Regions from separate parts of the Homo sapiens genome. Here regions 1, 2, 3, 4 and 6 are each linked to region 5. The links come from fine-mapping of genetic effects on gene expression. A gene starts in region 5. Each other region holds a variant in brackets. All regions are shown on one strand. Distances are between the middles of the regions. Region 1 has its middle 110 kb from the start of FREM1. Region 2 has its middle 32 kb from the start of FREM1. Region 3 holds the start of LOC105375980 (a long non-coding RNA gene). Region 4 overlaps FREM1 (FRAS1 related extracellular matrix 1). Region 5 holds the start of FREM1 (FRAS1 related extracellular matrix 1). Region 6 overlaps FREM1 (FRAS1 related extracellular matrix 1).

Region 1 (5,078 bases), 110 kb after region 5:
CACTCTGTCACCCAGGATAGAGTGCAGTGGCGCAATTATCCCGTCTCGGCCTCCTGAGTAGGTGGGACTACAGGTCTGTACCACAATGCCTAGCTAATTGGTGTTTTTTGTTTTGTTTTCCATGTAGAGACAAGGTCTCACTCTGTTGCCCATGCTGGTCTCAAACTCCTGGGCTCAAGTGATCCACCCACCTCAGCTTCCCAAAGTGTTGGGATTACAGGCGTGAGCCACTGTACCTGGCGTGTAATTTTGTATAATTTTAATTAGTTTAAGTATGTAAATTAAAACAGGATTAAATGTTTCTTGTATTGATTATATGTTGACATAATACTATTTTGGGAATATGGGTTAAATACAATACCTTAATTTCACCTGTTTTTTTTTTTTTTTAGCTCCTCCTCCCTGCCCCAGCTGTTTCTTTTTTCATGTGGATACTGGAAAAAATGTAGCCTGTATTATATTACACTTGGACAGGCTGATCTGTCCTATATCTCCTCTTTGAAGCCAGAGGCAATTAGTCTCTGATGGGACCAGTGTGGGCTCTAGCTACTGGTCAGTCTTCTGCTTCTACTCTAAGTCATCTTCTTTTCATGTCTCTGCTCACAGAGAGAACTTTAAAAAGCATGATTATTGTGTCATTTGGGAAAGGTTGGGCACATTTGTTGTAGAGATGGGCAGTCTCTAAAACTTTTGGGGTGATGGATGTTAAATTGTAGTGCCCTGGAGTAAAGCCTGTTACCCTACTGTAGTTGTGTTTCTGGGGTTTTATGTCCAAGTCTAATATTCTAGGAATTAGATCCTTCTGTATTTAGTTTTGAAGCAGTAGCAAAATGTAAGAATGAAGGACCTAATCTTGTTCTTGACTAGTGTCGTTTCCCAGGAGGTACAATTGACTGGCAGTTTGTTAATGTGACAGTGATTAGTAAATCACAACTAAGTTTGTTCTTAACCCTTTGAAGCTTCTTACAATAACACTGTAACTTAGCAAATAAGATACCTTTTATTGAGCAATTCTTAAATGTCAGTGTCATGATTCACTATAACAAGTGATGTACACATATTTAATTCTCACCCAACTCTTTAAAGTAGGTCTTATTCCCATGTTCACAAAGGAAATAGACCCAGCATGCTCAGCATTAGTCAGTAAGGGGCTGGTTTTCTTTTTTTTTTTGAGATGGAGTCTCACTCTTGTAGGCTGGAGTGCAATGGCAGGGTCTCAGCTCACTGCAACCTCCGCCTCCTGGGTTCACGTGATTCTCCTGCCTCAGCCTCCTGAGAAGCTGGGATTACAGCCTCCCACACCATGCCCAGCTAATTTTTGTATTTTTAGAAGAGACAGGGTTTCACCATCTTGATCAGACTGGTCTCGAACTCCTGACCTCAAGTGATCCACCTATCTTGGCTTCCCAAAGTGCTGGGATTACAGGCGTGAGCCACCATGCCCGGCTGAGGGCACTGGTTTTCATACTTGGTTTTCTGACTGTAGAGTGCATACTACTATCTGAAGTAAGAAGAGTTGCCTGCCTAGTTGCCTGATTTTTACCTTGACACAACCACTGTAGCTTAATTTAAGTATTCTAGTTGATAGTAGTGGCAGGGATATAGTAAGAATTCAGCAGTGAAACTCCTAACTCATTAATTGAGTATCTCGAGTAGAAACATTTAAGGCTTCATTTTTGAATAGTTAATTTAAGGCTTCACTTACGTTCTTTAAGTTTGGGCTTCGGTTAATTGAAATTTCTATAGAATATTTTATGGCTGGAAGAACATATTTTTCCTTGTACTGATGGTGAGCTGAATATTTTCATCTCTGTTCTTCAGTGTTTTTCTAGCTTAGTAATTCACATAAGTTGCTTATTCTTTTTAGTCCACATGTGACTTGGCATGTGTAAAAATGGAAACTGTGATACTGGAAAGTGATAAACTTTAAATTATTTGCTAACAGAAGACAAATAGGTCTTCACTTCCATACCCACCCTGATTTGTAGTGGCTGCCTGGGGCACTGTGAGAGAGATTCTAAGGGTCCCAATCAATCAGTTACACCCATGGGTGCAGGGAGGAACCACTTATTTTCCATCCTTAAGGAGCTTTTTGGAGAAAGCCTCATCTGTTTCCTTGAAATGATCAGCACTGACTTTTCTGAAGAAAGGAAGGTCATGAAGCTTATGTAAAACAATTTAATTTTTAAAAGGTTTCAAACCAATAAAAAACGTCACTACTGTTTAGAGATAGTTAGAAACATAGGTGGTGAAGTTTGCCATTCGTTCAACATGATACTGATCTACCAAAAGTGGGAAAGGGAAGAAAACACATTTTGTGACTCGGGTAACAGCATGTATTCTGTACTGTCATCAAGATTGAATCAAATGATATTCATAGACTGGGGTTAAAAGCCCTAGTATATAGTATATTTTTATAATACCATCCTTGGTAATCATTTTTTTTTTTTTGAGACAGGATCTTACTCTGTCACCCAGGCTGGAGTGCAAAGGCATGATCACGGCTCACTGCAGCCTGGACCTCCAGCACTCAGCCTCCCAAGTAGCTGAGACCACAGGTGCCCACCACCATGTCCAGCTAATTTCTCTATTTTTTCTAGAGACAGGGTCTCGCCACGTTGCCCAGGCTGGTCTCAAATTCCTGGGTTCAAGCGATCCTCCCACCTCAGCCTCCCAAATCCTCCCATGTTAGGATTACTGGCATAAGCCACTGCACACAGCCCATCCTTGGTATTATTATACCTTATATTTTTTGTTAGTATCATCAGAACATTGTACCTCATACATATAATTTAAAATCACGTATCATTCTTGAGTATAATTGTTAATGTTTTAACCAGTCTTCCTCTCCCCCAGTATAGCAGCCAGCTGTTTGGAAGTGTTTTGTTGGTTTGTTTGAATAATATCCATTCTTTTCATTATTATTCTCAAAGAAGTACAGTTTGTCAAAAAGGACATGTAATTTGTCAAAAGGAAGTCTAATTAGACATTGTTGACACTTCCATCTCATTTGCATCCTGAAATCTGATGCACATTAACATCCAGAAAGAATGAAAAAAATCTTAAAAGCCAAAATTGAAATTTAACTTTTAAAAATATATTCTTCAGGCAAATATTAGACATTGTCTCTCTATTCTTACCTCAAAC[G/A]CATGCTTGCCATGGCTACTCTTCTCCCACTTTGGTGAAGGTTTTAAAGGTTTAATTCTGCAGTGATTCCTTGTCTCTTACATTGTTGTCTTTTTCTGTTTTAATTCACCACAAGTCAGTAATTTTCTAACAAATAAGGTAGGACAGGGCAAAAAGAACAAATTTTGCCTACTTGGATCTTTTTTTAACCCAGCTGTCTCTTAGTATCAGGACCTTGAAGGATACCCAGAATCTGATGCTCGAGTCCCTTATGTAAGTTGGTGTAGTATTTGCATAACTTATGCACATCCTCCTGTATATTTCAAATCATTTCTAGATTACTTAGAATACCTAATATAACATAGACACTGTGTAAATAGTTGTTATACTGTATTTTTTTAAATCTGTATTTTTTAATTTTTTTCCTGAGTATTTCAATCTGCAGTTGGTTTAATCTAAGGATGTAGAACTCTCAGATTCAGAGGCAACTATATAGTGCATGGACCAGGCTGGCAAACTTTCTATGTAGGGCCAGATAGTAAATGTTTTACACTTTGTGGGCTACATAATCTATCACATTCTTGTTTTATTTTTCAACCATTTAAAAATGAAAAAATATTTAGTTTGAGGGTAGTTAAAAATGGGGTGAGCCAGGTTTGGCCCAAGTTTGCCAATTCCTGGACCTGTCTGCTGAATCTTTAAAGCTTATGTAAAATCATGATTGCCACCATGGAATAGACTTTCAAAAAAAATCATGACTGTAGCCGGGCGCGGTGGCTCATGCCTGTAATCCCAGCACTTTGGGAGGCCGAGGAGGGTGGATCATGAGGTCAAGAGATCAAGGCCATCCTGGCCAACATGGTGAAACCCTGTCTCTACTAAAAATACAAAAATCCCCTGAAAATGGTGGTACGCACCTGTAATCCCAGCTGCTTGGGAGGCTGAAGCAGGAAAATCCCTTGAACCCGGGAGGCAGAGGTTGCAGTGAGCCAAGATTGCGCCTCTGCACTCCAGCCTGGAGACAGCGAGACTCCATCTCAAAAAAATAAATAAATAAATAAATAAAATTTAAAAATTTTTAAAAAAGACTAAATCCTGTGAAATAGTCGCTAAGAAATCTTTAAGCCATTTTTAAGCTTGAATCCTATGTAGAAAAATTACCAAATTGCCATTCTAAATTACAGTGCTGCAGATTACTACCCGAGGTGGCACAAGTTGTACTAGTACAAAAAGTCTTAGGAGGAAAAACCCTCTTTGTAGTTTCTTTACCTCTGAAGACTGATTCATTTTCTAACTGTGTAGATAATCTTCTATATTATTGATTTCTTTCAGCTGACCTCAAGAGAATTTGCAAGACAATAGTTGAGGCTGCAAGTGATGATGAGAGACGAAAAGCTTTTGCTCCCATTCAGGAAATGATGACTTTTGTGCAGTTTGCTAATGATGAATGTGATTATGGTATGGGGCTTGAGTTGGGAATGGACCTCTTTTGCTATGGCTCACATGTGAGTAAAAAAAAAAAAACCTCCACTTGCCACCCCCCACCACACCTCCCTCCTCTCCCCCTGACACATACACACATGAATACATGCACATTTATACCCCCAAATTCCAGCAGAGGTAAGATAGGGATTCAGCTTGTATTTCAAAATGAACTTTTTGAAGTGATTTTTTTTAAAAGCAGATGTCCTAAAAACCTGTGAAATTCATCTTACATTCTAGCAAAGGTGAATAGCCAAGATTATTTGCATTCAGGCTTATATTAAAGTGAATTTATGTATTAGACACATTATAGGGATATGCCTTCTTGCTGTGTGTATACATTTGGGGCTAAGTATGGGGGTGTGTGCATACACCTTAGGCTCCATTTCATTTCGACTGTGGTGGGGGTATTTGTTATTGTGCTTGAATTCTTAGATGAAAAATATACTTTAAATTATTTAACCTTTATA
Region 2 (5,078 bases), 32 kb after region 5:
AAACAACACCATTGATTCTCTTGGTTCTCAGCCCCTCAGGCCCACATGGAAACTATACCATCAGCTCTTCCAGGTCTCCAGCTCGCCACATAGATCTTGAGACTTGCCAAGACCTTCATTATTGCATGAGCCATTTTTTCATAACACGTCTCTTGTTTTTTATTGACCCATTCATCCTATTGGTTCTGTTTCTCTGAAGATCCCTAATACAAACTCCCATTGTTTTTTAAGTACATCTTTACTTTTTAGCCAAGAATATGTTCCAGGCTTATCTTGGTTTTTCTCTTCCCTGGCCCTGGAATCAGTCATGAATTCTAGCACCACTATCTATTTTTAATGGGGCATGATATTTGTAAGCAAAAGTGCATTGTTGGTATTGTTGTTTGCTTCTAAGTCTTTTTAGCAGGCAGTTAGGGAATGTGTGTGTGTCCATAGATACATATAGATGTATCTGTATACACCTATAATAGTGTTAATGTGCATATATACATCTATAAGTGGACAAGCATATATACACATATGTGTGTATATAGATATACAGATATTCATACTAATACCTCTAATTACAATCCAACACCAAACACTACAGTGTTCCTCACAGCCTTCCTGTTTTTTATTGGTATCCTTGTTCTCAAACTATGAAAATCTGGTTGTCAGCATAATCAATATATTTACTCATTTGCTCAGTCCTACCATACACAGAAAGTAATTTCAGAATAGCTAACCCATACATTGTGGAAATCAAACCTAATATATATAGTTCAGCTTTGTCTTTTAGTGGACAATAGCCAAAGTTCTATGAGTTTGTTCTTTTTCACTGTTCAGTATGGTCATGTTATTCATTTAAAGGTTAGGTTGATCTACTTCTGTTTGTATTCCATTTTAGGGTTTTTCCCCTACACCCTTGTTGATCTAATTTTTTTCAGAGTGAAAAACATGAGCATGATGCCAAAAGTCAAAACTTCACTTTTGCCTTGTTCCTATCCATCTCCTGCAGGTAATCAATCTCGTTAGTTTCCGATTCATCCTTCCTGAGATGTATATTATCACTTTCGTTTCTTACAGGACATATAGCATACTCTATGTACTCCTATGCCTTTTGCTTTTTTCGCAGTAAATTATTTCATCTTTGTTTATGGAGATTTTTTAAGAATCTCCCTCTGTCACCAGGCTGGAGTGTAGTGGCTTAATCATGTTTTACTCCATCTTTGGCCTCCTGGGCTCAGGTAATCCTCCTACCTCAGCCTCCTGAGTAGCTGGGACTACAGGTGCATGCCACCATACCCAGTAAATTTTTAAATTTTTTGTAGAGAAACGGTCTTGCCATGTTGCCGAGGCTGGTCTCGAACTCCTGAGCACAAGTGATCTACCTGCCTCGACCTCCCAAAGTGCTGGGATTATAGGCATAAGCCACTGCACCCAGACTGGAGATATTTTTGCAGTTTTTCATGATGTGGATGTTCCATACCTTATTCAATAAAAATGTCCTATATTTGGGGATTTAGGTCATTTCTAATACTTTAAAATTATAAATAATACTACATTGAATAACCTTGTGCATATATATTTTTATATTGTTGAGATCTATCTTCAGAGTAAATTCCTTGAAGTGGGATTATTGTACCAAAATGTAAACACACTGTGGTCTGATTAGGCATTGCCACATTCCACTCCATACGGATGTACCATTTTGTGCTTTCACTAGCAATATGTGGACTTGCCTGTTTTTTTCCTGCCTCCCTGAAAAAGTATATTGTCAAGCTTTTTAATTTTTTGCCATTAGTTTGCACTTTTCTCATAACATTAAACATTTTGTATATGATTAAAATTAAACATTTTGTATGTGTTTAATGGCCATTTCAATCTTTTTTGGTGAGTTATCCCTCATGTCTCTTATTTTATAATAAATCTCTAGTAGAAAAATATTTTTCTCATAGAAGAACATTTGCCAATTTTTCTATTAGGTTTTTGCTATCATCCCTCTTGAGCATATGAAGCAACTGGCTCAAAGAAGAATAACCCAGGGCCATTCA[C/T]GTAGGAATTGCTGGAGCTGAAACTGGATATTACCATATAAAGAGAAAATTGCACAACATAATTTTTGTTGTTCTTTGCACTTTTCTATGTGACTCCCAAAATTTCCTGCCAGAGTATTCAGATATTACTTTGATAATTAAGAGGAAAAATGAAGTAAATTTTTTTAAATGAAAGAAATAGAAGAAAACCCAGCTGTTCCTTAAGTCACAACAGCTTTCCACAGTCTGCCAGGAGAATCTGCACCTGGAAGGTGGGAGCAGCCAAGCATGCAGGCTGCCACCTGCCAAAGGCTAGAGGAGTTTACCCTATTTGTGTTTATTTTAAATGAAAAAGTAAAAACAAAAGGAGAAGTAAGTAGAAAACATTGATAAGGTGACATTTGAGATGAATGATGCTTCATACTGAACCCAAGCTGCAAGTGGGGAAGAGAGACACACCCTCTAAAATCCATGACTTGAGATTCTCAAGAGAAATAAGAAGGAGGGAAAGGAGAGAGCTCACCAGTAAGACATAAATCTCAGAGGCTGTCTGGGAGTCTCAGGAGTGGCTCGAGTGAGGTTTTCAGCATAGAGAGGAATGAAGAAGTTATGCAACAAATCTGCTACTTCGGAAAACTGAAAAACGGTGAAGGCTGGGGAGATGAGGCATACATCATTCGTCTGCTAGGCAGTGGATTTCAGTCCCGACCGTAATTAACATCACCAGAGGAACATTTAAAGCAAGCAGATGTTTGGGCCCCATCCTTAGAAATTAAATCAGAATCTCAGGGGTGGGATGCTAAGATCCTGTTGAGAACCGCAGGTCTAGCAAATGTACAAGAGGCACAGGACTTCATGGATGTTTTCAGAGTATCTTTCAAGGATAAGAGAAAGAGATCAGCTCTGGATTTTAACTCAACAAATCTACCTATCAGTGCAGATAAAGAAATTATGTCACCATTGTTCCCATCATTATCATCATCATCCTCATCATCGTAGCTCCCATTTAATAAACACCTGATTATGCCCCAGATTCTATGGTAGGTACTTTATACTCCTTACATATTTTATTCTTCACAGCAACTCTTCAGGATAGTTTCGGTTTATTTAAGAGTTGATGAAATGAAGGCTTAGAGAGATTAAAAAATTTATCCAAGTCAATTATTGGCATTTTTTTAATCCCATTCAGTACTGTGATTATATAACATTGGTTCATATTTATCAACTTCACCAACTATACTTTCTTTAAAATAAAGCAATTTCACTCCTGGATAATACAACCAAGAGAATTGTATATTAGGCTATTTTTGGTTTGCCATTAAAAAAAAACCTGAGACTGGGTAATTTATACAGAAAATAGGTTTATTTGGCTCATGGTTCTGCAGGCTGTAAACAAAGCACAGTGCCAGCATCTGTTTCTGGTAAGGGCCTCAGGAAGCTTCCAATCATGGAAGATGGTGAAAGGGGAGCAGACGTCTCACATGGCTAGAGCAGGAACAAGACGAAGGGAGGTGCCACATACTTTTAAACAATCAAATCTCATAAGAACTCACTCACTATCACAAGGACAGCACCAAGCTATTTGTGAGGTACCTGCCCTCATCACCCAAACACCTCCCACCAGGCCCCACTTTCAACATTGGGGATTACATTCAACATGCAATTTGGAGAGGACAAACATTCAAACTATATCAGAGTGCATATATCTGCAAAAAGACTTATGCAAAATAGTCATAGCAACTCTATTCGTAATAGCCACGACATAGAAACAAAACAAATGTGCATTAGCAGAAGAAAGAATAAACAAATTGGTATAACCATATACAACAAACTTCTAAACTTATATATAAAACAACATGGGTGAGTTTCTTTTTTTTTTTATTTTCTTTCTTTTTGAGATGGTGTCTTGCTCTGTCACTCAGGCCGGAGTGCCATGGTGCGATCTCGGGTCACTGCAACTTCCGCTTCCCAGGTTCCAGCAATTCTCCTGCCTCAGCCTCCCAGGTAGCGGGGACTACAGGTGTGCACCACATCCAGCTAATTTTTGTATTTTTAGTAGAGACGGGGTTTCGTCATGTTGGCCAGGCTGGTCTCAAACTCCTGGCCTCAGGTGATCCACCCACCTCAGCCTCCCAAACTGCTGGGATTACAGGCATGAGCCACCATGCTTGGCCCAACATGGGTGAATTTCAAAAATTCAAAAATTTTATTGAACAAAAGAAGTTAGATACAAAATAGTACACATTAAGTGATTCCATTTATATATTTTTTAAATACAAAATTAAGTCATAGTGCTAGAAATCAGAATAATGGCTCAAATTAGGGGAGGGGGATGTAGATGGTCATATTGGCATATAGGAACATAAAAACTTACTGACTTATACATTTAAGATCTGTGCATTTTACTATACGTAAATGAGGCCTCAATCAAGTTCTATAATTGAAAAATAAGTGAGTGGGTAAGGTGGCTCATGCCTACTGTAATCCCAACACTTTGGGAGGCCAAGGCAGGAAGATAATTTGAGCCAAGGAGTTTGAGACCAGCTTGGGCAACATAGTGAAACCCCATCTCTACAAAAAATAAGAAAAAATTAGTCAGGTATGGTGATATGTGTCTGTAGTCCCAGTTACACAAGAGTCTAAGGTGGGAGCATCACTTGAGCCCAAGATTTCATGGCTGGAGTGGGCTATGATCGCACTACTACACTCCAGCCTAAGTGACAGAGTGAGACTCTGTCGCAAAAGATGATAGATTAGCTAGCTAGATAGATAGATAGGTAGATAGATAGATAGATAGATAGATAGATAGATAGATAGATAGATATAGACAAATACATAGAAGCTTACCCAAGACCACAAAACTAGTGTCTGAGCCAAGAACAGAATTGAGGTTTATCTGAGAAAAACTTATGATCTATAAATAGGGCCACTTCCTTCTAAGTGTGTATTAACTGCTCCCATCCAAGTATCAATTACTCAACAGAAGTGAAAACAGCACAAATGCCTAACCTTATGACAATGATTAAGTAAATTATGATATGCCCCCCCCCAAAATGAAATATAATT
Region 3 (5,078 bases), 82 kb after region 5:
ACGAGGGTTGAGTTGCATCCTCCCAAAGGATACATTGACTGTGACCTTATTTGGAAATAGGGTCTGTGCGGATGTGATCAAAATAAGATAAAGTGACGGCCGGGTGTGGTGGCTCACGCCTGTAATCCCAGCACTATGGGAGGCCAAAGTGGGTGGATCGCTTGAGGTCAGGAGTTCAAGACCAGACTGACCAACATGGTGAAACCCTGTCTCTACTAAAAACACAAAAATTAGCTGAGCATGGTGGTGTGCGCCTGCAGTCCCAGCTACTCAGGAGGCTGAGGCAGGAGAATTGCTTGAACCTGGGAGGCAGAGGTTGCAGTCAGCTGAGATGGCACCACTGCACTCCAGCCTGAGCGACAGAGCGAGACTCCGTCTCAAAAAAATAAAAATAAAAAAAATAATAAAACCATAAAAGTGATACTTGATTAGCATGGGCCCTAATCTAATGACTGCCGTCCTTACAAAAAGAGAGAAAGTTAGACACAGGCAGATGCACAGGGAGAACACGTAATGACAGAGGCAGAGAGTGGAGTGATTCATCTGCAAGCCAAGGAATGCCAAGAATTGCCAGCAGTCACCAGAAGCTAAGGCAAAGGCATGGCACAGATTGTCCCTCAGAGACCCCAGAAGGAACCAACCTCCTGATTTCTGATTTCTAGCCTCCATAACTGTAAGGGAATAAATTTCCATAGTTTTAAGCCACCCAGTTTGTGGTAATTGTATGGCAGCTTTAGGGAGCTAATGTACTGGTGAACATACGGACTTACCAGAGAAAACTGAAACCCAAGTGTTTTCGGAGGTGATGCCCGGAAGCAAGCTTACTGACACGCAGAACCTCACAAAGGCTCAGGAATTGGAAGTGCCATAGCTCTTCAGTGGGATGAGCTGAAAAGAGACCATTAAAAGTCCCAGAAGCAGTTAAGACTCCTAGATTTCCTCCCCTGGCAAAGTCAGGGAAACTTTCTCTAACCCTCATTCCCAACCTGAAACCTGCAAGATTATTTCTTTTGGGAGATATGGAACCAGGATATGGATTCAGGGACACCAGACACAGCTGAAGGTAAAAATGCTATTATGAAACAGTGCTGTAAGTGAAGGTATGCATGATAATTAGGTCTTTTTTTTTTTTTTTTAGACAGAGTCTCACTCTGTCACCCAGGCTGGAGTGCAGTGGTGCAATCTCAGCTCACTGTAACCTCCACCTCCCAGGTTCAAGTGATTCTTGTACCTTAGCCTCCCGAGTAGCTGGGACTACAGGCACGTGCTACCAAGCCTGGCTAATTTTTGTGTTTTAAGTAAAGACTGGGTTTCACCATGTTGGCCAGGCTGGTCTCAAACTCCCGACCTCAAGTGATCCACCCTCCTTGGCCTCCCAAAGTGCCGAGATTACAGGCATGAGTCACCATGCTCGGTGGAGAGTTAATTTTATGTGTCAACTTGACTGGACCACAGGATGCCCAGATATCTGGTTAAACAATATTTCTGAGTGTCTGTGAGGGCCCTGAGTAAAAGAGATTACCCTCACCAATGTGGGTGGGCATCATCCATTTCGGGTCTGAATAAAACAAAAAGGTAGAGGAAGGGAGGATTCACTTTCTCTCTGCTAGACTTCTTGAACTGAATTTTTGATCTTTTCCTGCCCTCGGTGATCCTGGTTTGCAGGACTCCAAACTCGGACTGGAATCTACACCATCTCCAGTTATCAGGGCTTTAAACTACAACATGGGCTTTCTGGGTCTTCAGCTTACAGACAGCAGATTGTGGGGCTTCTCAACCCCCATAATCACATGAGCTAATAGATAGATAGAGATATAGGTATAGATATAGATATCTATTCATTCTCTGTTTCTCTGGAGAACCCCAACTAACACAGGGCATCAGTGCATATAATGAAATTACTAAGTCTCCCAAACTCTTTCCCGCATTGGGCTCCAAGAAGGCTATATATTCTCAAAGCAAGTAATTAGAAGATTACTCTCTAGAAGAAAATAAACAGCTGGTCCTTGCCCCACCATCTTACACCTTGTCCCACCATCTTACACCTTGCCCCACCATCTTACACCTTGCCCCACCATCTTACACCTTGTCCAGCAGTGAACAAGCCTTGCCTATGTCCCCAAAGCACCTTTTTAGAGCATCACTTTTACATATAAATTGACAGCAGGGATCACTACACAAGATGAAGAACGCCTCTAGCAGAAACGACAGGGACCAAATATAAACAAACAAACAACCAAAAAAAACTCAAAGAATCAAAATCAATGCAGAGTTATGTAGAAAGTATTTTAAAACTCCTATAATTTACATCTTCAGAGAGTAAAGGAG[G/T]TATATTCATGAAACAATAATGTAATGCTATAAAAGAACAGAGAATAAAAAGGGCACTTAGAAATGAAGGTATAATAAAAGAAATAAAGTAATCTGATAATCATTTGTCCAATTAAGTTGAAAAAGTCACAGAGAAAGTAGAATAAAAAGATGAAGGGATAGAAAATAGGACAGACAGGTAAGAAAAAACATCAGCCAAGAAGGTCCACGATCTAAATAACAAATTTCAAAAAATAAGAGATAAAATAAGAGAGGGCGGAAAGAAACGATCAAATAAATAATACCAGGAGAATCCCCATAACGGAAGAACATGTGTTTCAGGATTGAAAAACTGATCAATAGGAATGAGAAAAGACCCATAAGAAAGACACTCGATTGTGTCTTAGAACGCTGGGTATAAAGAGAAGATCCTAAAGCTTCTTGAGACAAAACAAAACCGAAACCAAAGCGGGTTACATAACAAGAAATTTAGTGACCTGAGAAGGAGAAGGAAATGCAATGACGTAGAGTTTCTCAACAATTTTGGAAGCTAAAATATTGTGGAGCAAGCCCTCCAATATTCCGAGTGAAAGTTATTTTCAACCTAGAACTCAGCCAGAATAAAAACAGTTCCAGACCTGCACGCTCTGTGGGAAAAAAGACCTGGAAGCAACCTCCCTCAAGGAACTATTGGCGGATATGTTCCACAACATGAGGCTATATAATCAAGAAAAAGACACAGACTCAGGAAATAGGGAACTCACCTCAGGAATGAGGAATAAGACCTTCCCAGGATGGATGTGAAGGAGACCCAGGACATCAGTTGAGAGCTGTGCCTTCCAAATTTTGATGTGCATAGGAATTACCAGGGGATCTTGTTGCAATGCAGACACTGATTCAGTAAGTCTGGGTAGGGCTTGAGATTTCGCGTTTTTAACAAATTCCCTCAGGATGCTGAGGCTGCTGGTTCAGGGACTACACTTTGCATAACTGGGGTGTAGAGAAAAAATAGTCCGAACTGTACCAAGAAGACGATGGTACAGAGACAGAGACAGACAGACACTTATTTCCTTCTGGGAGATCATCGGGAATGAATTAGTGTAAGTCAATAACTGTATAGTAGGGGAGGGAGAGGGATGGAGGAGAGGGAGAAAAGGATTAATGTTTTAAGTAAACACAAATGAAGAAAAAACAAGGAAGGGGCTGTACTGAGGGCAGCCGCATACATCCAACCTTGCCTCTAGTAGACACCTGAAGAGGAAGGTTGGACCACCCTAACGGATTCAGATTCAGTAGTCTGGGGGGGTCTCTGGAGTGACCCTGGAAGATGCTCCAAAAAGCCTAGAAGCGGACCACAAGGACAGAAGACGCCCCTTCCCCATACCCAGCAAGGGAGTAAGCCGGGCCTCAAAGCGCCCGGCGCCAGGTCTCAGGGGGCGGGGCATGGGCGGAGCCTTTTCCCTAAATTGGCGCGCCCGAGCGGCGCTGGGATTCGCATTGGAGGCTTTTGAACCCGGAAGCAGTTGGCTGCTCTCGGAAGCGGCCGCGGATCCGGGAATTCGGCTGGCGCTGCAGCTGCAGAATGGTGGGCGGTGGCTGGAAGCGCAGGCCCGGCGCGGGGGCGGGGCCGCAGATACTGCCAGAAAGGCTGTGGGGGCTACGCAGGTGGCTTTGGATGACAGCCAGGGTACCAGGAGGCAGCGCGTTTCATTCATGCAGTGACTATTAAGCTTGCTGTGTGTCCGGGGTCTGCGGTTTGCTGCGGGGACCCTGCCCAGGTCGCTGTTTCGCGCTCTGTAGGGGATTGGACCAGGAAAGTAGCGCCTCTGCATTTTCTGCCCAGCTCCTCTTGGCGCATTTCCTGGGGAAACGGATTAAGCCAACCAACGTTTCATTCATTCGCCCACCCAGATAGATTGGGAACCGATTACATACCAGACATTGTGCGGGGCCCTGCGGATTTGGGGTCAACCCGCCTGCCCCTTCTCCATGTAGAGCCTCCGGCCTGGGGAGGAGGGGCACAAGCGAATATGCATTCTACTGTGACTTTTTTGTTTGGGATTATAATGCTGGTGTGTAGAAAGTGCTATGGAAACACTGAAGGAGGATTTAACAAGTCCCAGGGGGTGTTAAAGAAGACTTTTAAGACAACTCTTTGAAAATGGGTTTTGAAGGCAGAGAAGAGTCTGAGACGTAAAAGTGTAGGAGATGTTTGGGCATAGTGGAGCGTTCGGCTTGGCTGGAGCCAGAGAAATGGGAAAGTAAGAGGGACCTGATCATAAAAGCACTATGAGAGGGGAGGGGGGAAAAGTATGTGCATTATCTCATATTTTACTACGATTTCGGAAGTTCTGTAACCACTACAGTAGCAATAAGGGGAATCAGACAGGAAGGAAGTGCCATTGTGATAACTAAAGTTTTAGAAAACTTAGTCTGGCAGTGTTATAAATCGGATAGGGTGTGAGACATTCTTGGAGGGCTTAATTAACTAGTAAAGGGCCAGTTGTATAGGCATTCTTCATATTGGGTCATGCATTCTAGGAATACCAGGGTAAAGGAGAAATGCAGCCTCTGAAGGGGACAGCTGTCCTAAATTCTAGTTGTTAGGGATATGGAGATGCTGAACTAGTATGTGAGTTAAGGCAGAGCTGAAAAAATTCTCTTTGAAGGTTCAGTGAAGAACTGCTTTGGTGGCGTGAGGTGCTTAACTAGAAATACAATAGCAGAAATGAAGGCGAGTCTATAGAGGCTATAACCATAATGGCCGGCAT
Region 4 (5,078 bases), 46 kb before region 5:
CGGCTCACCGCAACCTCTGCCTCCCAGGTTCAAGAGATTCTCCTGCCTTAGCCTCCCGAATAGCTGGGACTACAGGTGCCTGCCACCACTCCCAGCTAATTTTTGTATTTTTAGTAGAGATGGGGTTTTGCCATGTTGACCAGGCTGGTCTCAAACTCCTGACCTCAGGTGATCTGCCCACCTTAGCCTCCCAAAGTGCTGGGATTAGAGGCATGAGCCACTGCGCCTGGCCCTCTTAACCTTTTTGTTACAAACAATCCAATTATAATCTTATAGTTATTTTAAAATGTGCCATTGAATTGTTACTGACGGTAGTCACCCTGTTGTGCTATCAAATACTAGGTCTTACCCATTCTAACTACTGTTTGTACTCATTAACCATCCCCATGTTCCCTGCAACTCCCCACTACCCTTCCCACCCGCTCCGCGCAAGTTCTTTGAAGTTATTTGTTTTTTAACTCTAAAGTCTTAGAAAGATCAAATGGCCCTGTATGCTGATTTCATATCTTCCTAAGGAATCCTTGAGTGCCGCTTCATTTTCTCAACACAGCATTTTGTGACTCTCTTTTGGCGCTTGTTCTGCATCATAATTACCTGCTCATCTTTTGCCTTAGACTACAAGCACTAAAATAATCTGTGTATTCTCATCCTTTTGTTGATTATGCTCAACGTACAGCCTGGCCTGTAATAGGTGGTCATAAATGTTTGTAGAATGGTTCACTGTTCCAATGTCTTGTACAAAAGTCTTTTACATTAGTCTAATGCTTAAAGGAAATTCACACCAACATATCTAACCAAATATTCTTAAAAGCAATAAAAACCAAATAAAAAACCCTATAAAGGCCTACTCCACATACATCAGTTCTCAGTGACTTTTATGAAGTCAGATATACCATAATCGTGAGCTTAAATTTAAAATTAATTTTCACTGGGATATAATTCATATACCACAAAGTTCATCTTTTAAAAATATACAACTCAGAGTTTTTTAGTGTAGTCCCAAGGTTGTACAACCATCATGACTACCTAATTCCAGAAGACTTTCATCAACCCCAAAAGAGACATATTTCCCTTCCCCAGCCTCTGGCAACCACTAATCTACTCTCCGTCTCTGTGAATTTGCCAGTTCTAGACATTTCATACAAATGGAACAATACAATATGTGACACTTTGTGCCTGGCTTCTTTTACTTGGCATAATGTTTTCAAGGTTCATTCATGCTGTAGCCTTTATCAGTGCTTCGTTGTTTTTTTATGGCTGAATGATATTCCATTCCATGAATATACCACATATTGTTTATCCATTCATCAGTTGGATTTATTCCATTTTTTGGCTGTTATGAATAATGTTGCATTGAACTTTAAGTGCAAGTTCTTATGTAAAACATAAGTTTTCATTTTTCTTATATATATGCGTAGGAGAAGAACTGCTGTCTCCTACGGTCATTCCATGTTTAACTCCATAGTTGATTTTTAAAGAATTTTAGGCCAGTCATGGTGGCACATCCCTGTAATCCCAGCACTTTGGGAGGCGGAGACAGGCAGATCATGTGGTCAGGAGATCAAGACCATCCTGGCTAACACGGTGAAACCCTACCTCTACTAAAAATACAACAAATTAGCCGGGCGTAGTGGTGGGCGCCTGTAGTCCCAGCTACTCAGGAGGCTGAGGCAGGAGAATAGCTTGAACCTGGGAGACAGAGGTTGCAGTGAGCCGAGATTGCGCCACTGCACTCCAGCCTGGGTGACAGAGCAAGACTCCGTCTCAAAAAAAAAAAAAAAAAGGAATTTTAAATATTTAATATGTTTAAAAATGGAAGATATTGCACTTTCTGTAACTAAACAGCTGGTAACAAAAAAGAAGAATTTCATTCATTTTTGGAATATATTTTCTCCCTGATTTTCATTAAGAATTTGTAGTTTATAATTTCCATTTTCTACCATAAGTGGTGGG[T/A]TGGAACACCAGAGATACCTATATAAGGACACTAGAGGGAAACAGGATACGGCTAAAAATTTGCCACAGAAGAATCCTAGGGAAGATGACACAAGTGGAAATAACTGAAAGTTGGCTACAAATCTTGCCTGATCCACTCAGGCCTCCAGTTTCTGTTGATTACTTTCTTGTCTGGAATCTATTAACTCCCCTCATGACAATACATATCCACAAGAAAAGCCCTCATAAGAACACAGAATGGTTACTTGGCAGCAAATGAGCGATGTTCCCGTGCCGCTTACCTGTAAAGTCTGAGCTTCACTGTGTCTTCATCAAGAATTGGACAACCATTGTGAACATACTTGACTTCGTTGGGAAGGAAATGGCAGTCAAAGACCTAGTTCACATGAAGAATTGGATAAATATCTATGAGAAAATTGGTACAAGATTTAACATTTTGCCAGGAGAGCACTGCCTGGAGAAAATATGCTCTGTTAGTAATGTGTGTATGTGTGTGAGTGTGTGTGTCTTCACCACCACCACCTCTACCCTACCCCCATACCCAGTCACCATCCTACTTATACAGCTGTCTCTTGTTTTGAGAATATCTAAGTTGTGAAAACCAAAGCAGTTCAAGAAAATTAGTTAAGGGATGATTACGTCTCTAAATAAGTGTCTTTTTACCACCTAGAGTGCATTTAAAACATACTTTCATTTTTCGAAATTTTATTTACCCCTTTCAGGGGTTCACAGCAATTGAGTTAGAGAGTTCTTTCTGTGTGTCTGCATGAAAAGGCATGCTTTAACCCACCCACAAACACACTGTATTCTTTCTGTATATCTGTGTTCTCCTTTCATTTCTTTTTTTTTCCGAATAGTATTCTCATATTCAAAGATGAAGCCACTGACTATGGACACTACTGTGGTTAATCAGAGCCTAACATGACCCAGAGTTGTGTCTTGCATACTTGCAAAAAACTGCTTTCATTAGTTAGGCAATAGCAGAAATGGCAGATGAGAAAAACAGAAATCTAAAAGCAATTTCCTCTATTCAAATAAAATTATAATGAACTGTCTCAACTCACTCAGAATTATTAGGAGATTGTTAACTGTTATATTTTGGGAACCTGATTTTTAGAGGAAGAATCATCTCTCCCACCCATATCATGCCCTTCATTCTGCCCAATCTGACTCTGGTAGAGTTCTAATACCCTTGAGGTATGCACGCATGTCCACCATTGTGTTCGTGGTGTTTCGTCTGTACCTTTTCACAGCCTCAAACATTTTCAGACAACATAATTCACTCAGAGAAGACTTTACCACTAATACAAACGATTTTCTTTTCCCGCAGATATCATTGATTCCTCTTTTAAATTGACAACTAGGAAGGAGATAAAGCAAAGACCTTCCCCATATCATTGACAAATAGTCATGGTAATAAAGAGACAGTCTGCTTTGTTAAAAGAAACATCTGTTTTATGTTTCATAATATGTTTTCCTTTTATAAAAGGCGACAACCATAATTGTCCATAAATTTACTAACTAAAACAAAGGAGAGCTAAATCCTTTTCTAATTACTGTCTAGCTTTGTTTTTTTCCACTTCAACTGCTTTTCAATTACAATTTATAATTAAATTGTCACACATTCCTAGCTCATTACTCACTTTAATGACAGTAAAATGGTTCAAAGTAGAGATACTTTCTTACCGCTATATTTCCTATTCAAAAAAGCAAGTTTAGTGCTAACCTGGGGTGCTTTCCACCCAGCAAATTTCTTGCTTTGGGCTAGGTGTGAGAAGTGCCATGTGTGAGGGAGTCTTGTCCTAAAACATGAGGAAAACATATTGCCATCAACCTCATCTAATTGACTATATCAAGAGGGTTATCTGAACAGAAGGCACTGGTGTGCATCAACTGAAATCCCTTTCCAAATATTCAACAGGAAAATGAACCTGTTGATCCTAAGACAAACTTCAGTAATGAAATGAAAACACTAATTGAACAGATGTTAAACAAAACATTTTCTGTGCAAGTCACATGAAACTGTTCATTACACAGCAGGGTGTTGTTAATACAGTCGTCTTGCTAGAAATGGGTTCACATAAGCTTGGCTTTCAGCTTATTACTAAGCTCTATTAAAGAATAATGTTTAGGCTGTGTGTGTGTGTGTGTGTGTGTGTGTGTGTGTGTGTGCACATGCACTTAGCTATGCTTAATTTCTAAAACTCCATAAGGAACGAACCCCTAGGGAAGGACTGAACCAGCCTGCGTTAAAAACCAAGCACAAATTCAACAAAACAAAACAGACTTAGGAATCTTGTTTTTGTTGAAATTATGAGAATAACAAATAGGAACAATCACCTGGCAGTTTGAGAAACAAAGTTCTCCCATGATATAGATTTCTCTCACACACAGTTTTAATATTTGGCCAAAAAAAGTACTGAAACTCCATATTTTAATGAACTCCTTTACCACAGAATAAATATTAGAAGATATAAATCCCATACCGACTTTAGAGGCTATAAATCCATTTGAGATGTCATATTTGCCTCTGGAAATACATACACTAAGTATTCATGACTTGATTCTACTTTTTCTTAATGAGCAATAGCAGGCTAGGGAATCAGTATATTCAGAGGTGTTTCTCAGCAACCAAGGCAATTTGTGGTTTCTCCTCTATACTGTCTTTCTAGTAACTGGAGTTTTACCTTAAAATCAGAGAGTGTGAGATGGAGATGACTTGCAGGCCTATTCCAATCCTTGATTCTTGTGAACAAATGTTTTTTACCTAGTTCTAGTCACTTGGATCCCTTTTTGCTCCTCAGTGCCTTGGAGCAGGCCAAGCAATCAGGACCATTAAAACATCACTAAAGATATATAATGGGGACAATTTTATTTCTCTCAGAGAGACTGCCATATACGGTAAGGAGTCATAGGCCATTTGAGGTAGGGAGAGGAGAGCTCTCAGAGGCTGGCTTAGGTAACAATAGATTATCTCCAAATTGCCTACTAAGGAGAATCTGGTCATCTGCAGGGCTTTTGTTTTGCTCAGTTGGGCATGCATGCTTGAGGTCCAAACTGGAAGACAGCTTAGACAGCTTGCTCCTGCGAGCTACCAGTGGGAATTTTCCTTCTTCTCTTTTTCA
Region 5 (5,078 bases):
AGATGTCTGTTTAAGCCTCTCACCTGGTAGCACAAAAGCTGTTGAATCACTTGAATGAAAGGGTCAGGTTGCAAGCTGTGCATGTGTGGAAGCTGTCAAGCCCTGTTCAGACCACCCAGCTCTCCAAAGGAGTAGCGACATCAGATTCAGACAAGATAAGAGGCTGCCCTCCTATGTAACCTGGCGCAGGGAAACAGCCTTTCCAGGGAGTTACGGGATCCCATTGTAAGGAATGGCTACATGCCCTGAAAAGATTACACTTGTCTAACTCAATATTCCTGTGGTCATGGTGCTTTGTGAGAGAAAAAAATACATCTGAAAATTTTTGAAGAAAAGCAATTAGCGAAATCTTTAGGCCTATTCTCAGAGTAAATGCTGAAAAGCTCTCATAGCCCATATCTGTGTTTAGAAGACTGAGTCATATCCATCAATGTCAGAATATCAGAGCTAGGAAGATACCAAAACTCATTTAATTCAACTTATTTTACTGATGAGGAAGTGAAGCTTTGAGGGGTTAGATGGCTCTTCCAAGGCTGGTTAGCAACAACTAAGATTTGAAACACCATGAGGACAAGGACCCTGCCTGTGCATGCCATCCCCAGTGGGCATTCTGAAATCCTTAAAAACTATCACAGAGCCTGGCATGTAGCAGGTGCACCTAAATGTTTGGAATGAGGAAAGAAAAGAAAGCAAGGGGCTCTGATGGCCATGTCCAGTTTTCTTTTTAATATAAATATTAAACGCCAGAAAATGCAAGGATGGGGATGGAAGCTGAGCTCTGACTTTCACATATTGTGAAATGAGAATTTTAACACCATGGAAGAATCATTTTCTGTTTCTTCTCATCCCTGTGGGATGGTCCAATCCAAAAATCATTTTCTAGGAATGAGGCTCCTGAACCATTCCATGAAATCAAGCTCAGTTTACCCAAACTCAGCCTCGCCCAACCCCTACAGCCCAGCAGCCCCAGGAGGCTGGGAAAGAATTAAGAACAGTCCTGGGTTTAAAGTTTCCAAAACAAACATTGCTTAGCCATGCGGGGGCAGATCAGGCCATATAGCCCAACATGTGAAAGCAGGGAACATGGTAGTCAGGTCCCTTTGCCCAACTCCTTTTTTCCCTCGTGGGAATGAAAAGGCAGAGATGAAAAGGGAAGCAAGAAAAAAAAAAGATGAGGTTGGTGGAAAACTGATTAAAAAGCCCTGGTTTGCCAGCCAAGCATGCAAAACCATGTTGCACATTAAGTTATGCTCAACAACAGCTCAAACTCAGGTTTCTTATTTAGATATAAGGTTTAATATTAACCAAGTACATGACAAGAATTTCATGTCAAGGACAATGTAGAGCAATGTTTACCCAAGTGTGACCCACCTGCTTCAGAATCACCTGGGAAGATTCCTGGCACCACTCCAGGTCTAAAATCCTTTGGGCCTGGGAACTGAGAACCTGCCTTTCACCAAGCAAATGGGGGTTCTTACACACAGTCAGTTTTGAGAATGCCTGATGGAGAGAAACAGCAAAGTTTCCTAGAGCTGCACTGAAGGCACCTTTATCAAATGTAAGCAGGGGGCTGAGGCACAGCTCTTCAAGCTTTACCTAGAGTCAGGAACAGCGGGTGTCAGTTTTCCAGAGCAGAAACCTGAAGAGCATTCGAATCACTAGCTCTGTTCTGTGAAGCAGCACCACAGAGGTTAATCTCTCCAGTAAGATTCCCAGGCTATAAACACCAATTGGCTCCCAGAAATGCTCTTTTTAAGCTTTGTAATGCACACCAAGCAACAAGACTGGGTGCAATAGTTTAAAAAAAAATCAGAAACTAAAATTAAATACCTTAAAAACAATAAACAATTTCCATAAGCCAAAAATTGTTTCCTGGATTTCAAAATAAAATGAAAAGAAACTCTTTACAACAGCACCAAAGTCTCTGGACCAAATCTCAGTACTGAGCAGAGAGAGCCTAAAAATCAGTCCAAAAACTTCAGAACAAGGCCATTTCTTTGCCTCCCCAGCACTATCTCTCTTCCCCACAATGAAACAGAAATCATGTTTTTGAAAATATGTCTCCAAATATAACTAAACTTAAGCAAAGGTATCCAGACATTATCTCATCCAAATTTCTCTATGTTTGTACCATGAGGATATTATCTGTTCTGTTCATTTTTGTGTCTTTTCCCTTTGCCATTTCATTTAGCTGAGAAGAAACATTCTAATTTCAGAGGAAACAATTACACAGTTAAAAAATGGTTATTTCATTGGCAAGTGCCAGCACGGATGGACTGAGAAGAGTTAGAAATTTGTGTCACGTAATAAAAAGAATCTCAGTTTTGGCATTTGGTTTGTTAACACTGCAAGTTGCCATCTTCTGAGTTAACAGGAGAGTTAAACTTTTGCAAGCCTACTCTTGCAGATGCTTTGCATTGTTACTTGGCATTAATGATATCACACAAACAATCTCTGGGGCATTCTGCTAACAGAACATTCACAGTCACAATGAAAAGAAACACATAAAACAGATACTTACAGGTAGTGGTTTTCCTTTCCAAGACAAAAAGTTAGAAACCCTTGGAACTGGCGGGCAGGATAAGAGTCACTGACACAGCAATCTGGTTTAAAGGGCTTTGAGAGGAAGGGGGAGGAAAAAGAACCCCGGGAAGGAAGAGAGCTGAAATTCCAGTCTTTCAGGTCAGCTGTGTTTGAGATTTCTTTTTACTAAAAATCCATTAACCCACCTCACAGAAAATACAGAATTGAAGTTCACATACACACTCCACTTTCTTTGCTGGTCTTCTCCAAGGCAGCTGCTGCAGCTTTGCAAACTTCCTGAGCGCCAAGCCTCAGGACTCCCTGTGAGAAGGGCATGATAAAGATGCCTTCTACTGTTTACACAGAGCCCGACCTCCCTGGCGGACAGCCACCGCTAGCCCCGTGCCTTCTGCTGGTTGGGTCCGCAGGGACAAAACTGAGCTTTTGTTAATGAGGTCGGTTGCCTCTTCCCAGTCTCTTCCCAGCTTCCTTTCTCACTACTAGTTTTGTACTAACTGCTCCGCCACTCGCCGAGCCAGAGCAGCCTCTCCCGCCTGCAGCACACAGGCACACACACACTCAGACACAGGCACACACACATTCACAAATGGGCACACAGTCACATACAGACACACCCACTCACAGAGGTACACACACAGGCACACATACAAACACGATAGACACACAATCACCACACACAGACACATACACAGGCAAATGCCTTCACATGCATGCACACATAGTGACCCACCCCACACATGTGCATGCATTCTCACGCATGCTCCACACACACACGGGGGCACACACATACGCACAGGCCGCACATGCCCACACCCACACATGTACATACTCACACAGACTCTTCCAACACACTTTTTTTCTGCCCTTCTTTTCTTCCAACACATTCCCATCTTCAAAGGTTTTTATTTAAATTTAGATGAGAAGCCCAGCATTCAGAAGGGACAGGGCCCGTTTTAACTTTTGTCATGGCATTTAAGGGAAAAGATAGGATGGAACTAGATCCTAAGGTGCTGTTTTTAAGTACCACCTTAGTTCTTCCATTTGTAAGGCTTTTTGTGTGTCTGGCTCTTTTCGAAAACCCATAAAAATCCCATTAATCTGATCCATTTGCATATAGTGCGTGATCCCAATAATGCAGATATATCACTGGCCAAGAACTGTCCTCTCAACAGAGATTCACATAGTTAACTTGTCAGTATTCAGTGGTCTGTGAAAGTCTTAATCCTTAACAACTGTTTAATAAAATGCTTTCCTGTATTTTATTCCCACCAGGAAAAAAAAAGATAATGGCCTACCATCTGGCCTTCTAAATTAACCATAAAGAGAGAATTTGAAGTATTAACTCACTTTGGGGGAACTGTTTATATTAAGACATGTCTGGCTATCCTAAACCTTTGCCAAAAATATAGAACACTGTGAATCCAATTCAACCTAGATGTGGTTTCCCGTAACAAGGTCACAACACCATATGCCTTTCTTTGGAAGCCATAAGGAAAAGAGAGAGGAAAATGAAAAAGGAGAAGAAAATTACATGAGGAAGGAAGAAAGAAAAGAGAAAAATGTAAAGAAGAAAAGAATGCATAAGAAGGGAGAAAAAAATTATGTATTTTAAAAACATGCTTTGTGGTTACTTTAGCAATGAATGGTGCATATACACTTACTCAAAGTCATCGGAGATTTCAAATCTTCAAGAATTTCTTGATTCATTTTATTTGCTCTGAGAATAAGTAGGTGAAAGTTAAGAATCACTAAGCTCTTTATAAGTGAACAGATATTATTTACTAAACACAGTTATTATTAAATAAATATAGTGACAATGTGTGAGTCATATATTAATCCTGAAAAGGCAAGAAATAAAGCCTTAATAATGACAGTTAAGAAACACAGCATAATAGACAATTTTATTCCCCAACTGATTTTCAAAATTGCCCAGGTTGTGAATATCTTACCTGCAAAGAAATGAAGATGGTTTTAGAAGCTGTTAGTTGAGACTCGGATTCCATTTGACAAAGGAATTGTATACTATGTACAAACGGTTGCATCAACATGCTTATTCTAACATCTAAATAAGGTTTATAGATTAGTCTAGAAACTAATAAGGTTTATAGATTAGTTTATAGATAGATTATAAAGTTTATAGATAGATTAAGAGCTAAATAAGGTTTACAGATTAGTCTAGAAACAGAGATAAATGTCTTTATATCACTTCTATGGGAAAAATAACTTAAGCATGCTAAGCAAAAAATAACAAACTTAGATTGTAAAGTATTTCAAAAAGTCCGCAGGAGATATAATCTTTCCAAAGTTAATTATATACATGAAGCTTGGCCTAACTGTGCTGAACATATTCTGAAATAGGCAGTTAAGAGTTAGATCAGTCAAAATGTCCTGAAATCTGAAGTACCTGTTTATACAAATGTCATTCCTTCTATCTGCCACAAATGAATAAGGGCCTGGAAATAATACAATTATCAACTTCAATCAATAAAATACTGTTTGAACAGATTGAAATGCCAAGCTAGGGAATTTAAAAA
Region 6 (5,078 bases), 62 kb before region 5:
ATTCCCTGCTCACAAATGATGGTGAGAGTTATCTTTCTGCATTACAGTTAGGGAAACTAAGAAGATAATTGAATTAAATCCTCTGAGTTCATTATAAGGAATGACTTATTTTATCATAAAGTGTAAATATTACTTTTATTAGATTATTACCTTGTTAACTATCATCCCATAGAATTATAAATTTATTTCTTTTAAACCATGACAACTACTACTAATAACATAACATCATTATTACTAAAGTATTAATTAAGCATTAATTTTTCTTTTTCTTTTTTCTTTTTTTTGAGATGGAATCTTGCTTTGTCACCCAGGCTGGAGTGCAGTGGCGTGATCTTGGCTCACTGCAACCTCTGCCGCCCAGGTTCAAGCAATTCTCCTGTCTCAGCCTCCCAAGTAGTTGGGACTACAGGCGCCCGCCACCATGCCCGGCTAATTTTTGTATTTTCAGTAGAGACGGAGTTTTACCATATTGGTCAGGCTGGTCTTGAACTCCTGACCTCAGGTGATCCACCCACCTTGGCCTCCCAAAATGTTGGGATTACAGGCGTGAGCCACTGCGCTCGGCCTAATTTTTCAATATACTTCTTTGAAGCAGAGAAATAAAAAACATTCTGTCCTCCAACTGGGAAAAAAATAACTAGTTAAGGAGTATACTTACAAGAAGCCATGCATGGCATCCAGAAAGCAAAACTGAGGTTTAAACAATGAGCCACGTACAAGGTACCATTCATAAATGGTTAGACATTGATCTGAGCATTTGAACACAAAAGTCAATGATTTCAAGATCTCCAGATTTTCTGCATTTGACAATTTCATTGAGAAATTGGGCCCAAGAGATGCTACATATATCTGTTAAATATATCTACTTTTGAAGAAAATACTTTTGGATTCTTTGCTAGGTTACCAAGTTGGATCATTCACCTCTTAAAGTCAGCCATCCATGCTGCAGGCCACCAACGGTGACTAGCCGGACAGCACCAATGTCGTCATTGTCGACAACCTGAAACTGTTCCCAAGTGATGGCTCGAGACTGCCCCTCAAGGAGACTCAGACCTATGAAAGAAAGGAGAAAAGGGTGTTGGTATCATAGACTGGATAAAGAAAATGAGGCACATATACACCATGGAATACTATGCAGCCATAAAAAATAATGAGTTCATGCCCTTTGCAGGGACATGGATGAAACTGGAAACCATCATCCTCAGCAAACTAACACAGGAACAGAAAACCAAACACCACATGCTCTCACTCATAAGTGGGAGCTGAACAATGAGAACACATGGACACAGGGAGGGGAACATCACACACCAGAGCCTGTTCGGGGGTAGAGGGGAAAGGGGAGAAAGAGCATTAGGACAAATATCTAATGCATGAGGGGCTTAAAACCTAGATGACAGGTTGATAGATGCAGCAAACCACCATGGCACATGTATACCTATGTAACAAACCTACACGTTCAGCACATATACCCCAGAACTTAAATTTTTTAAAAAAAGATAAGAAAAGGGTATTGGCAAGTTCTATGACATGCCAACGTGCCTGCTTAAGAAAAGATGAGTGAATTTCCACTCATGAAACCATCTGAATATTGCATCTATAAAAGCTTTTCAAGAAACTGGAATGTAGCTTTTATTTTTAGTACTATTTTTATTTTTAGTACTATTAACTCCAATATTACAACAGATTACAGATAATCCTGAAAGGGAGCAGAGCAAGCTGGTCGAATTGCAAGGTAGCGTGCTGCTGGACTTATCTTATGCTTCTCTCACATCTGCCAGCTTCACCTGCCATCCCGGCCTCGACCAACTGACTGTTCTCTAGCTGCAGCCGCCCCATGAGGGTTCCCAGTCTCCAAAATTGTAAAGCCCTCCTGCCACCACTGCCTCATCTTCTGATGCAGCCGGCTACCTCCACTGCCCTCTAGTGGCGGCAGGACCAACCTTGTGGCTGATCAGGCCCTGCACCAGGGGACCCAGGAAGTGTGTGCAATGGCTGCTAAGAGGGGCCAGATAACACAATCTGGGCATGTGGGGAGTTAACAGCCAGTGAAGTAAACTTTAACCCATTAAACACAGGAGATGGGAAATAACTGACCATTAATAGATTGTTGACCTTTTCCCAACCCCACTTCCAACTCT[T/C]ACCAGACACAGCAGTTGCATCTTCTCCCTGGAGACATCAACACTGCAGAGCAATCTGCTTTATCTTATTGTAAAGCTGTGACACCAGCTCAGCCATGCGTTTTTATTTGCTTCTCCCCTTACTCTTGCTTTTAGTATAGGGTTAGTACATCTGATCTGCCTCGGGGTCTGTTTTCTAGGGAAATTGGGCTAATACATATATAAAGGAGAGGGAGAGAGAAAAAGAAGGAAGGAAGGAAGGAAGGAAGGAAGGGAGGGAGGGAGGGAGGGAGGGAGGGAGGGTGGGAGGGAGAAGAAATGGACAGAAGTGCATAAGAAGAATCTCTGTGACTGGCAATAAGGGTTTGGAAGCCAGGAGTGCATAGGACAAGGCATCACGGAGCACAGCAGAGGAACAATCGAGAAGCCTAGAAATATATACAGCAAAATATTAACATTGGTTATATCTTCACGGCGAAATAATAATTTTAGATGCATTCTCCAAATTTCAACGATGGCACAGATCAAGTTCATAATAAGCAAACATTTATTTTAAAAGGGATTCTGATGTTCAAAGCAGCCAAAATGACATTGAGCAAACCTGGGTGTCACCGATCACACATACACGTACAGACTATTCCATCTCTACACTCAGGCAGGAGCCCATGCAACATGTGATTATTCCTAAACTTTAGGTTACTGATTCCATCTTTTCTCTCATTACCCCCTTGACAGAGGTACAGTAGGATGTATAGCCAGAATTATAAATCAAGGCTGCTCACCTGATGTTCTCTATCTCTGCTGAAACTCACACACATACAAACACATATCTATGTGTACACACACGAGGCAGCTCGTTTAAGCTGCCACCTGAGGATTTAAATCAGACACAGATATTTTTTCCTTAATACTATCTACCACCACTGCTTATAAGTATGTTTCAAATGGTATTGATGGGATCAGTGAGAAGGAAAAGATCTCCATTTACATTCCACATTTACATCTGATCAACATATACATATATATATCACATAAGTCCACTCAGAATTGAGAGGCATAGAAAGCCATATTTTAAAGCAGTTAAAGCTCTTATTTACATATTTTAGTTTCCATGCAGCCCAACATAAAAATAGACTATAGATTATAAAAGCTAAACCTTTCTCCAATCCCTTGGAACAATTTGAGTTGGAGATTTCAGTCCCACTACAGCTCAATATCACAAATAGTCAGTTTTTTGCTTCATTCAGTTGAAAAGTGTCCCTTTGTCTTATCTCCGGCAGAGGAAAGAACTTGGCCTCAGGACGCAGAAATCCTGGATTTAAATTTCTCACGCTGCCAGGAGGAATAAAAAAACAACAACAAAAGCTACTATGTGATGCCCTTAATCTGTCTGGGTTTCAGTTGCCACATGTATGACATAGGAATAAAACTACCTTTCTTTCCTGACCCATCTACTTTCTTGTATTCCCTTCAGGGCTATGTTGCTCTATGCCTTATATTGAGCTTTACCTGTATTCCAGGATACACGGGGGGCATTTGTATCTGCTGTTCTGATGGAGATGTGGACTGTCATAGGTGCACTCCTTTCAAAGAAGAAGTCGTATACCTCCAATTCTACCTGTAAACAAACAGAGGCAAAGGAGCCACACACTGAAGCGTTACAGGGTAAAGTAGCATTAATTCTGGGTTATACCCACACACAGTGGATTCAGTTTTCTGCGGGGATTCACATTTCTGCAGTTCCCACATCTCATTTAGACATCCTGATTTGACTTTTTCAGGTTCTAGATCTTGTTCCTTACTTTAACGGTATTTTTAAATTTTCTTCTACATAAAAGAATTTATTAATCTAAAATTGGTAATATGCTGGAGAAGTGTCTCTGCACTTGCTTAGGAGACCAACCCCTTCCCACATTCAGTCACTTAAATCTTTCTCAAAGGTGGAGGATCTAGAGAAGTGGTTTTCAACTAGGGGTGATGTTGTCCCACTACAGGACTTTTGGGAATGTCTGGAGGCATTTTTAATTTCAGAAGTCGGTGTGTGGGAAAATGCTATTGTCATCGAGTGGGTAGAGGCCAGGATACTAACATCCTACCGTACACAGGACAACCTCCCAAACAAAGAATTATCTGATACAAAATGGCAATTGTCGTACTGCTACTATCAAGAAACCCTGATCTAGAGACATGTATTTCACTAGACATATTTTTAAATATCTCAACTTTATTTGCTTTCATGAAATTCATAACTAATAAGTAAGTAGGGGCTGCGTGATAAGTTTTGATCTTTATTATGTGCTGTGTATGTATTGCACCAGATGTTGACAGAGAAGAATGAGGTATAACACAGAAATGCAAGGCATACTCCCTACTTTTGAAGAACATGTGGTCCATGGAAGAGGATAAGATAAATAATCAAACAGCACTATATCAGCAAACACTAAATAACAAAAGAAACTGATTCAAGGCTGCCAAAGCAACAGACTGAACAGGAAACTACATGGGCAGGAGGTGTCTTTTTTGGAGGGGTAATGCATTCGGTTGGGCCCTGGCCCAGGGCTTCCAGTCCACACAACCTGAAAACTGTGTGATCTCCACTGAAAAAATTGAGAGTTACTGTCTAACGAAAAAAATCACACATTCGCACAGGTTCTGCTTTAAGAGTACATTATACAATGCCAGAAACTACACACAGGAAGAGGCCAGAAAAGCAGTGCTCTAAGATTGGATGTGCAATGAGAAATTACTTCCTAACAGGGAAGGCATGGGGGGCCACAGACTATGATGAAAAGGGGGAAATAAAAGCAGAAGGCAAAGCATAGCGTTTATAGCCTGAAGTCCTTTGTCTTCCCTTGAGGCTACATGCTGAAAATGCCGAAATTACAATAGAGATAACCCCAGGGACGATCATTTTCCTTAATAAACCTGAGCTCAAGTCTCTATCAGTCTGCTCGTTTACAA

The links. PIP is the estimated chance that this variant, and not a neighbour inherited with it, causes the effect.
Region 1: its variant is fine-mapped to the expression of FREM1 in spinal cord (GTEx, PIP 0.94).
Region 2: its variant is fine-mapped to the expression of FREM1 in ovary (GTEx, PIP above 0.99).
Region 3: its variant is fine-mapped to the expression of FREM1 in prefrontal cortex (ROSMAP, PIP 0.95).
Region 4: its variant is fine-mapped to the expression of FREM1 in lung (TOPMed, PIP 0.95).
Region 6: its variant is fine-mapped to the expression of FREM1 in cerebellum (GTEx, PIP above 0.99). The same link has a PIP of 0.9 or more in amygdala, anterior cingulate cortex, caudate, cerebellar hemisphere, cerebral cortex and hypothalamus.

What each region holds. Positions count from the first base shown.
Region 1 is chr9:15,012,897-15,017,974 of GRCh38, forward strand. It overlaps the pseudogene LOC389705. Among named protein-coding and RNA genes, the nearest start is that of FREM1, 110 kb to the left of the region's middle. The variant G/A (reference allele first, on the strand shown) is at 3,148.
Region 2 is chr9:14,939,641-14,944,718 of GRCh38, forward strand. No RefSeq gene overlaps it. Among named protein-coding and RNA genes, the nearest start is that of FREM1, 32 kb to the left of the region's middle. The variant C/T (reference allele first, on the strand shown) is at 2,034.
Region 3 is chr9:14,989,458-14,994,535 of GRCh38, forward strand. LOC105375980 (a long non-coding RNA gene) reads right to left here and starts at 3,738. Exons shown (of 5, transcript XR_929491.3): 1 at 3,692-3,738; 2 at 3,072-3,297; 3 at 771-888. It also overlaps the pseudogene LOC389705. The variant G/T (reference allele first, on the strand shown) is at 2,329.
Region 4 is chr9:14,861,575-14,866,652 of GRCh38, forward strand. It overlaps FREM1 (FRAS1 related extracellular matrix 1), which reads right to left. Exons shown (of 37, transcript NM_001379081.2): 3 at 2,235-2,329. Among named protein-coding and RNA genes, the nearest start is that of FREM1, 46 kb to the right of the region's middle. The variant T/A (reference allele first, on the strand shown) is at 1,954.
Region 5 is chr9:14,907,393-14,912,470 of GRCh38, forward strand. It overlaps FREM1 (FRAS1 related extracellular matrix 1), which reads right to left and starts at 3,036. Exons shown (of 37, transcript NM_001379081.2): 1 at 2,522-3,036. RefSeq lists enhancers at 1-350, 1,300-1,801.
Region 6 is chr9:14,845,039-14,850,116 of GRCh38, forward strand. It overlaps FREM1 (FRAS1 related extracellular matrix 1), which reads right to left. Exons shown (of 37, transcript NM_001379081.2): 7 at 3,627-3,735; 8 at 922-1,053. Among named protein-coding and RNA genes, the nearest start is that of FREM1, 63 kb to the right of the region's middle. The variant T/C (reference allele first, on the strand shown) is at 2,139.